2 separate regions of the Homo sapiens genome follow, and region 2 is linked to region 1. Evidence: fine-mapped expression QTL. A gene starts in region 1. The other region holds a variant in brackets. All regions are shown on one strand. Distances are from middle to middle. Region 1 holds the start of LAS1L (LAS1 like ribosome biogenesis factor). Region 2 has its middle 27 kb from the start of LAS1L.

Region 1 (5,381 bases):
GCACTATTAATAAGTGCTCTTATTATTTCCGTTTACAGATGAAGTAAACGAGGCATAGAAAAGTTAAGTAACTTGCTCAAGGTTTCAAATAGTAAGTGGTGAAGACACAATTCAAGCCCAAGCTACCTGAGTGCAGGTACTGAGGTTCAGATGACTCTGTGAATACTGTTGCCATGTATTGAATGATATAGGAGGAGGGACAGATTTTGGGGGAAAGTATTTAAGATTTAGACAGGTTGATATTGGGTTGCCTGCGGGATCACATGAGTGCAGCAGACAGTTGATTAAATGTGTCTGGAGTCCCACAGAAAACTCAGCTAGAGACTTGAAGAACATCAACATATAGGTGTTTGCTTAGCCGGGGCCACAGGACTGCTCTAGGTGAACTAGATACACAAAAGTGGACGTTGGGGTGAAGTGAGGGGGAGGGAAATGGTGAAATAATGAAGGGGAAGCAGTAGCTTGAAGATACATTTGATTAACTTCAGGATTTCACAGACAATGCCTTGGACTTGGAGATTTTATTTAATTCGTGCCCACTGGCACTGCTAGGAGTGTCCTACGTCACCACAAGCCTAGGGATTCTTAGGATTCTTGAGCATGTGCCAGGACAGATCCATATTCCCTGTGGTAAGCTGAAACAATTGTCCCCCAAAAGATACTCACATCCTAATCCCTACAACCTATGAATGTTACTTTATGTGGTTAAAAGAAAAAGAAAAAAGAAAGAAAAACATTGGACTTCATTGTAATTAAAGATCTTGAGATGTGGAAATTAGCCTGCATTATCTGAGTGGACTCTGCCACCACATGTATCCTTTTAAAATGGAGGCTGGGGGAGACTTTACAAACACAGAGGGGAAGATGGAGCAGAGAGAGATTTGAAGATGCTGGTCTTGAAGTTTGGAATAATGTGCTCCAAGCCAAGGAATGCTAGCAGCCACTAGAAAAGACAAGGAGTGTATTCTTCCCTAGAGCAGCTGGAGGAATCATGAACCTACCAGTACCTTGATTTCAGCTCAGTGATACTGTTATCAAACTTTTGGCCTCCAGAACTACGAGAAAATAAATGTCTGTTGTTTTAAACCACCAAGTTTGTGGTAATTTGCTATAGCAACAACAGGAAACTAACGCAGTGCTTCTTCAAAATTACCACTATTTGACACACTTCGTCCACTAATTCCTAATTCTCAATAGGTCTCAGGCCCCATTTGCCACATATTAGACATAATGCTCTTGTTACATGCTTTGGTCATGTTTTCTTAGAACACACGGAATAGAGAGAACTTCAGCTTTATGTGGATGGAATGGGGATAAATAGGGGTCTTTGCCTGAAAAGGACTATGCAAAATTTTTAGCCTATAAACCCCAAAATGTGTGTGAATGATTGCCGCAGATCTGGCAGCTCCTCTGACTGGCCTGTATCTTGAGGAGTCATAGAAACCACTCCCCAGACTTCTTTGCCAGCACACTGTCATGATCCTGAAGGAAAAAGGGTATCTGGTTTCAGGCAGACACCTGGCCAACTGGTTGGCATGGCTACTTGGGACAGAGTAACTGTCAGTCAAGAACCATAGGCAGGCCGGGCACGGTGGCTCATGCCTGTAATCCTAGCACTTTGGGAGGCCTGGGCTGGTGGATCACTTGAGGTCAGGAGTTCCAGACCAGCCTGGCCAACATGGTGAAACCCTGTCTCTACTAACAATACAAAAATTAGCCAAGCATAGTGGCAGGCGCCTGTAATCCCAGCTACTTGGAAGGCTGAGGCAAGAGAATCACTTGAACCCTGGAGGTAGAGGTTGCAGTGAGCCGAGAATTGTGCCACTGCACTCCAGCCTGGGCGACTGGGCCAGACGCCATGTCAAAAAAAAAAAGAAAAAGAAAAAAAGAAAAATAAAATAACTATAGGCAGACTATATCTTAGGAAAAGTTGGCTGGAGAAAGAAGCACATATAGAGGATGAATTGGGATTTGTTGCTGTGAAGCGTAAAAGTGCCACTCACAGCAATGCTGTTAAGATCGTTAGCAACAGTTCTCTCTCTCTCTCTCTCAAGTGTTACATTGGAAAATAACTTCTGCAAGAAGGATTGGGACATAGTCCTAAACATATTTCAGTCAACTCGTAAAATCGGAGGAACTTCATAATACCGCTTTTCTCCCAGAACTCCAAAATACCAAGGAATTTTGCAGAAAAACTAAGTATACCTTGGTGGATGTTGAAACCAACATAGCAGTGGAATGTTGGCAGAGTAAAATTCTACAATTTTCTGCTATGACAGAGAACCTAGAGACCAGTCTACAACTCTCACTGTACAGATGGGAAAACTGAGACTAGTCTAAGTCCACATAGTTAGTGGCAAAATTTAGAGTAAAACTCAGGTCTCTAGGCTGGTATTTATTTATTTATTTATGTATGTATTTATTTAATTTACTTTTGAGACAGAGTCTCGATCTGTCACCCAGGGTGGAGTGCACTGGTGCGATCTTGGCTTGTTGCAGCCTCCGCCTCCCGGATTCAAGCGATTCTTGTGCCTCAGCCTCCTGAGTAACTGGGATTACAGGCATGTGCAACCATGCTTAGCTAATTTTTGTATTTTTACTAGAGACCGGGTTTCACCATTTTGGCCAGGCTGGTCTGGAACTCCTGACCTCAAGTGATCCGCCCGCCTGGGCCTCCCAATGTGCTGGGATTACAGGCGTGAGCCACCACGCCTGGCCAGGCTGGTACTAATTTAAAAGGCAGGGCCCCTGGTTACCTGCCACAAAAGCAGATTTTTTCAACCCAACTGTAACTGTTTCGATATGAGATATTTCCTCTGTAGCCCTGCTTCAGTGTCCAGTGTTTTACTAGGTTAGGTCCTGATTCACGGCAATAAAAATATACTTAAAATCGCATTTTCAGTTCACTGGATGACTACAATCAAGCTGCCACCCGCCGAGGGGAGCAAAATAAAATTCCTCTTGCAGTGAAGACATACCGCTTCCGGTCTGGTACAGAAGCCGGTTAGCAACCAGGAAATTGGCGGAACCTAGAGGCTGAACTCTTGCCCCTGGAGGGTTTGCTTTGTGAAAAGAACACTTCCGGCCGGTGAGTTTTTAACCCCGCATGTCATTAGGTCGGCGCCCAATTCTGACGTTCCGATTGGCCATGCTGACGCTGGAAGGCGGGCTTGCGTATGGGGTCACGCTCTCCTATTGGCTGCTGGTGCGGTGGCGGTTCGGAGTGAGGGTAGCACGCTGAGCTGAAGGCTGTGCGGAGCGGCGCGGCACAGAGCCTGTTGTTGAGCTCAGTATGTCGTGGGAATCCGGGGCCGGGCCAGGTCTAGGTTCCCAGGGGATGGATCTCGTGTGGAGTGCGTGGTACGGAAAGTGCGTTAAAGGGAAAGGGTCGTTGCCACTCTCGGCCCACGGCATCGTGGTCGCCTGGCTCAGCAGGGCCGAGTGGGACCAGGTGACGGTTTATCTGTTCTGTGACGACCATAAGTTGCAGCGGTACGCGCTTAACCGCATCACGGTGTGGAGGAGCAGGTAAGGTGGCGGGTTCGGCCCTTTTGCCTGCGTGCTGGTGGCGCTGCACCTCTTCCTTTGTCGAGTTTCTATAAGGCCCTGTTCTCCAGTCTTCCCCTAAGTCGCCTAAAGTTGTCCCTCTCCCAAATGCCTGGGGGAACGCGGCAGCCATCTCTTGCGCTAATCCCGTTAGCGGAATGGAAAGTAAGGGGTTGTGCCTCAACAATTCTCTTGTTATATCTGTGAGGTTTACCCATTACCTCCAAAAAGTGACTTTCTCCCAACTTGGAGAGGATGCCGGAGGGACTAGTGAGGCCTGAGCCAGGGCTTAAGGAGTAGATTAGTACCCTAGGGTAGATTTCCGATTCCAATGGGGAGGAAGTCTTGCCTGCAAGACAGTGTTTGAGTGGGGCGCCTCAGTCCAGTTGGTAAGATTGAGTTGGGAGCCGACTTACAAGGGATAAGGGGCTCCTCTAGCTCAATGAGTTGATTTGGGGGTGAAAGAAAGGGGTGTGTCCACACAACTGTTGATGGACAGTCTACCAGTTAGGTGTCCTGTATACGGCCTAGTCAGCTCCTCATGCCCTGTATACTGTTGGATCCCACAGACATTACCGTGTCTCCTCCCACCTTCTTGTTTTGTGTCTGTTCATGCTCTCTTGAACCAGAATATGATGGGTGTAGCCTGCAACAACCTAGGTTCTGAGGTGGAGGGTGGACCAGTGTAAGGGCTCTTTATGATGGTGCTGGACTGTGACCCTTTAGGTCAGGCAACGAACTCCCTCTGGCAGTGGCTTCTACTGCTGACCTGATACGCTGTAAGCTCTTGGATGTAACTGGTGGCTTGGGCACTGATGAACTTAGACTGCTCTATGGCATGGCATTGGTCAGGTAAGACCTGCATGGGGTAGGGGTGGAGGTTGGCTTTGGGGACTGGAGGCAGGGGAGGCATGTGATAAGCAAAACTTGGCTTCAGGTGTTACCTGAAGCAAAACCCTGCGTGTACCTCACTGTGGATCAGCCTGTGATTATTGCTTGACTTATCAGCTTTTGGTACCCTCGTCAACGCATTCCTCTTTTTCTTCCTTTTTCCTGAAAGCCTTCTCTTCCATTTTTCTTTCTATCTTGGAATGTGGAGGAAGGGATTCAGACCAGGTGATCTCTGTGGGTCTCTTGGTGGTCTGATATTTTTTCTTACCTTTGAATTCCTCACCCAGAGGAACTTGTCTGAATGGCTCAGGGTCCTCGCCTGTGATTTAATGTGGACTTTCCAACCCTGTCCCTGTCTATTCCTAGCACTACCCTTTTCCCCTTCTCTCCCTCATGAACACTGAAAGATTGCTGAGTTATGGAAGTGGAGACATGGGCTGGGAATTCCTGACTTACAAAGTGACTCATAATGGTTCTAGCTGTATACACGTCGGAAAAAAAGGTTGCTACTGAGTTTTCATATCTGTCAAAGTCTTTGCTTATCTATTTCCCCTTGTCTGCCTTGAGATCCTCCCTTTCTCTTCTTATTTTCTCCATTGGTTAGCTGTGCTCCCCATTATCTGATGTAGTCCTTTGCAGCATTTATAACATATTATGTTCTAGCCTAATATGTTACATTGTATCATTATTATTTATCCTAGACCGAACTGTTCAAGGCTAGAGCAGTGTCTTATTCATCTGTATGGCTTCATTATAGGGCAGACTCTCATTAAATGTTGGAATGGATGGAACTGTCCCTGCTCTGGCTGACACACCAGCTGTAGGAATAGGACAGGACAGTCGGTGGAAAAGTGGAAATGCAGGGTTTCAGTAACTCAGCAAAGTGTTTGGAATAAAATGGTTCCTTGGGCTGTGCCACTTATTTCTCCCTCAACTCCAGGTTT
Region 2 (5,381 bases), 26 kb before region 1:
GATTCCCTATTTAATAAATGGTGTTGGGAAAACTGGTAAGCCATATACGGAAAAATGAAACTGGACCCCTTCTTTACACCTTATACAAAAATTAACTCAAGATGGATTAAAGACTTAAATGTAAGACCTAAAACCATAAAAACCCTAGAAGAAATCCAAGGCAATACCATTCAGGACACAGGCATGGACAAAAACTTCATGACTAAAACATCAAAAGCAATGGCAACAAAAGCCAAAATTGACAAATGGGATGTAATTAAACTAAAGAGCTTCTGCACAGCAAAAGAAACTATCATCAGAGTGAACAGGCAACCTACAGAATGGGAGAAAATTTTTGCAATCTATCCATCTGACAAAGGCTAATATCCAGAATCTACAAAGAACTTAAACAAATTTACAAGAAAAAAAACAAACAACCCCAACAAAAAGTGGGCGAAGGATATGAACAGACATTTCTCAAAAGAAGACATTTATTTTTATTTTATTTTATTTTATTTATTTATTTTTTGAGATGGAGTGTCACTCTGTCACCCAGGCTGGAATGCAGTGGTGCAATCTTGGCTCACTGCAACCTCCACCCACCCAGGGTTCAAGTGATTCTCCTACCTCAGCCTCCCAAGTAGTGGGGATTAGAGGTGCCTGCCACCATGCCTGGCTAATTTTTGTATTTTTAGTAGAGACGCGGTTTCAGCATCTTGGCCAGGCTGGTCTTGAACTCCTGACCTCGTGATCCACCCACCTCAGGCTCCCAAAGTGCTGGGATTACAGGCGTGAGCCACCACACCCAGCAAAAGAAGACATTTATACAGCCAACAAACATGAAAAAAAAGGGTCATCATCACTGGTCATTAGAGAAATGTAAATCAAAATCACAATGAGATATCATCTTATGCCAGTTAGAAAGGGGATCATTAAAATGTCAGGAAACAACAGATGCTGGAGAGGATGTGGAGAAATAGGAATGCTTTTACACTGCTGGTGGGAGTGCAAGTTAGTTCAAACATTGTGGAAGACAGTGTGGCGATTCCTCAAAGATCTAGAAACAGAAATACCATTTGACCCAGCAATCCCATTACTGAGTATATACCAAGAGGTTTATGAATCATTCTACTATAAAGACACATGCACATGTATGTTTATTGTGGCACTGTTCACAATAGCAAAGACTTGGAACCAACCCAAATGTCCATCAATGATAGACTAGATAAAGAAAATGTGGCACACATACACCATGGAATACTATGCAGCCATAAAAAAGGATGAGTTCAAGTCCTTTGCAGGGACATGGATGAAGCTGGAAACCATCATTCTTACCAAACTAACACAAGAACATAAAACCAAACACCTCACGTTCTCACTCATAAGTGGGAGTTGAACAATGAGAACACATGGACACAGGGTGGGGAACATCACACACTGGGGCCTGTCAGGGGGTAGGGGGCTAGAGGAGGGATAGCACTAGGAGAGATACCTAATGTAGATGACAGGTTGATGGGTGCAGCAAACCACCATGGCACATGTATACCTATGTAACAAACCTGCAAGTTCTGCACATATACTCCAGAACTTAAAGTATAAGAAGAAGAAGAAAATTAAAAAAGAAGAAAGAGTATGAACATGGCCAGCCATGGTGACACACGCCTGTAATTCCAGCACTTTGGGAGGCCGAGGCGAGCGGATCACCTGAGGTCAGGAGTTCAAGACCAGCCTGGCCAACATGGTGAAACCCCATCTCTATTAAAAATAAAAAAAAATTAGCCAGACATGGTGGTGCACACCTGTAATCCTAGCTACTGGGAGGCTGAGGCAGGAGAATCACTTGAAGCTGGGAGGCGGAGGTCGCAGTGAATTGAGATCACGTCACTGCACTCCAGCCTGGGCGACAAAGAAAGACTCCATCTCAAAAAAACAAAACAAAACAAAACAAAACAAATGTGAACATGAACAGGTTTTGTTGGATAAAATGCCCACTACTCATAGGAAGGGTTGTTGTGAACAGTATCCTTTTGATCCTTTCCTGGCCAGGCCCTGGTCCTTGTTTTCGCCTAGGTCAAGACTCAAATCCCAGCCTTCAAGCCTACAACTTGAACCAGCCTCTGACAGATGGATAAGATGCTTCAGCTCAGAGTGTATGTGTAGGGGAAAGGCGTGTACAGGCAAGGGAGGAATATCCTCCTGAAGACTAGGAAGATGGATATCAATCTTACTATTTTCTCTATTTATTTATTTATTTATTTATTTATTTATTTATTTAGAGATGGACTTTCGCTTTTGTTGCCCAGGCTGGAGTGCAATGGCACGATCTCAGCTCACCGAAACTGCCGCCTTCCGGATTCAAGTGATTCTCCTGCCTCAGCCTCCCAAGTAGCTGGGATTACAGGAATGCACCACCATGCCTGGATAATTTTGTATTTTTAGTAGAGACGAGGTTTCTCCATGTTGGTCAGGCTGGTCTCGAACTCCCGACCTCAGGTGATCCGCCCGCCTCAGCCTCCCAAAATGCTGGGTTTACAGGCATGAGCCACCGTGCCCGGCATATTAATATTACTTTTAAAAAATAGAGATAAGGTCTAATTGTGTTGCCCAGGCTGATCTCAAATTCCTGAACTCAAGCAATCCTCCTGCCTTGTCCAAACTGCTGGGATTACAGGCATGCGCTACTGTGCCATTTCTATTTTCTCAAACATTTACCAGAGAAATTCTTCTCTATGCCTAGTTGAAATTGGAATTAGATTGTGATTAATCCCAGTCCATGCCCCCTGAATATCTGTGTTCCAAGGCGATGGAACATAGATGTGCCCTATCAACCATGTAGCCTTTCTTTGGGTGATTAAAGTTGGATCCCAAAGAGGCCAGCTTCACTGCCACTTCTGCCAGGATCCTTCACTCAGCCTTCTGTTCCTCGTTTTGTTTAATTTTCCCCCAGGAGACATGAACCTCAGCTTAGATTAGGAAAATCTATGAAAAAGCTAGGTGTTTGTTTGTTTCCCACAAAAGAAATTCTTTTTATTTTATTTTATTTTATTTTATTTTATTTTATTTTATTTTATTTTTTGAGATGGAGTTTTGCTCTTGTCGCCTAGGCTGGAGTGCAGTGGTGTGATGTAAGCTCACTGAGACCTCTGCCTCCTGGGTTCAAGCGATTCTCCAGCCTCAGCCTCCTGAGTAGCTGGGATTGCAGGTGCCCATCACCACACCTGGCTAATTTTTGTGTTTTTAGTAGAGACGGGGTTTTGCCATCTTGGCCAGGCTGGTCTTCAACTCCTAACCTCAGGTGATCCAGCCCCCTCGGCCTCCCAAAGTGCTGGGATTACAGGTGTGAGCCACC[G/A]CACCCAGACAAAATGACTTAAAGATTTTTTTTTTTTGAGATGAAGTTTCACTCTTGTTGCCTGAAGGCTGGAGTACAATAGCATGATTTCAGCTCACTGCAACCTCTCCCTCCTGGGTTCAAGCAATATTCCTGCCTCAGCCTCCTGAGTAGCTGGGATTACAGGCATGCTCCACCACGCCTGGCTAATTTTGTATTTTTAGTAGAGACGGGGTTTCACCATGTTGGTCAGGCTGGTCTCCAACTCCTGACCTCAGGTGACCCACCTGCCTCAGCCTCCCAAAGTGCTGGGATTACAGGCATGAGCCACCGTGCCTGGTGATAAACTATTTTAGAAAAGCTTCAGGTGTATCCTGAGATTGATGGAATTCTATGCTTATTGTCAGAAGCAACTTTTTAAAATTGATAGTTAACAACAATGTATTGTATATTTCAGGAGCAACTCTTTGAAAGTGGCTAGTTCTAAAGAGAATTAAGGAGGAAGAATTAATTTTCTAGAAGGTCTAGCAAAGGAAGTTAAAAAGTTAATTAAGGCAGCAGTCTGACTCAAAGATAGGTTTCAGAGAGAAGCTGAAAGAATTCAGTCTTAGGGGCTGATAGTTACGGATTTGCAAGGAAGTTTCTGGGCCTTGGCACCTTCAACGAAAATTTCTCATGCAGTCCCCACAAATTACTGATGTTAATAAAAGCATCAACTTCTTTTCTTTTCTTTCTTTTTTTTTTTTTTTTTTGAGACAGGGTCTTGCTCTATTGCTCAGGCTGGATGGAGTGCAGTGGAGCAATCATAGCTCACTGCAGCCTCAAAATCCTGGGCTTAAGCAGTCCTCCCACCTCAGCCTACTGAATAGCTAGGACTGCAGGTGTGCACCACCACACCTGGCTATTTTTTATTTTATTTTATTTTTGTAGAGACAAGTTTTCCATATGTTGCCCGGGCTGGTCTAGAACTCCTGGGCTCAAGCAAACCTCCTGCCTCAGCCTCCTAAGTTGCTGGGATGACAGGCATGAGCCACTGCATCTGGCTAAAACATCAATTTATTAAACGGTCTTCATAGATTGTTTTATGCCAGGGAAATTTAAAAACTGATTTTTTAGTCATATTAAGGAATTCTTTAATATGTAACAAGAGCAAATATATATATATATATATATATATATATATATATATATATATATATATATTTTTTTTTTTTTTTTAAAGATTCCTTATCTTGGCCGGTCGGGGTGGCTCAAGCCTGTAATCCCAGCACTTTGGGAAGCTAAGGCAGGTGGAACACTTGAGGTCAGGAGTTCGAGACCAGCCTGGCCAACATGGTGAAACTCCTTCTCTACTAAGAATACAAAAATTAGCTGGGTGTGGTGGTGGGTGCCTGTAATCCCAGCTGCTCGAGAGGCTGAGGCAGGGGAATCGCTCGAACCAGGGAGGCAGAGGTTTCAGTGAGCTGAGATCATGCCACTGCACTCCAGCCTGGGCAACAGAGCAAGACTCTGTCTCAAAGAAAAAAAAATGTTGATCCTGTGGCTGGCACCAAATCTCTCCAGATCCCCAGGGTTTCAAGGACACTCCTCTCCTCTGAGATATCCTTTTGTGGAAATATTTGAAAAGCACTAGTCTGAGGGAAATAAGCATATTTAGGGGTGCTAAGCTTGAAATGTTAACTATAAAATAGGGAAAATTCCAGATGGATCTAAGATTTAAATGCTAAGAAAGAAAGAGACTAATGAATGTATAAGAAGATTGTATAACCTTTAAGTGAAGAAACTCTAAATGTCATACAAAATCCAAAAGCCATACAAGAAAATATTGATGCATTTCACATAATATTTAAAACTTTTGCATCACAAAAATATATATGACAAAGTCAAAACACTAACAACAAAGTGGTATCAGATTTTATAATACATAAAACAAGTAAGAGAGGGGCTACTTTTCTCAATAACAAAAAGATCATATAAATCAGTCAGATTAAGATGAATAACAATACAAAATGGGGAAAGGGCATGAACAGTAAGTAGACAGTAAGAAAGATGAATTACTGATAAAGATGCTCAT

What was found.
Region 2: its variant is fine-mapped to the expression of LAS1L in lung (TOPMed, PIP 0.91).

Annotation. Positions count from the first base shown.
Region 1 is chrX:65,532,627-65,538,007 of GRCh38, reverse strand. It overlaps LAS1L (LAS1 like ribosome biogenesis factor), which reads left to right and starts at 3,221. Exons shown (of 14, transcript NM_031206.7): 1 at 3,221-3,528; 2 at 4,273-4,398; 3 at 5,378-5,381. The coding sequence starts at 3,293. RefSeq lists an enhancer at 2,947-3,126.
Region 2 is chrX:65,558,937-65,564,317 of GRCh38, reverse strand. No RefSeq gene overlaps it. Among named protein-coding and RNA genes, the nearest start is that of LAS1L, 27 kb to the right of the region's middle. The variant G/A (reference allele first, on the strand shown) is at 3,329.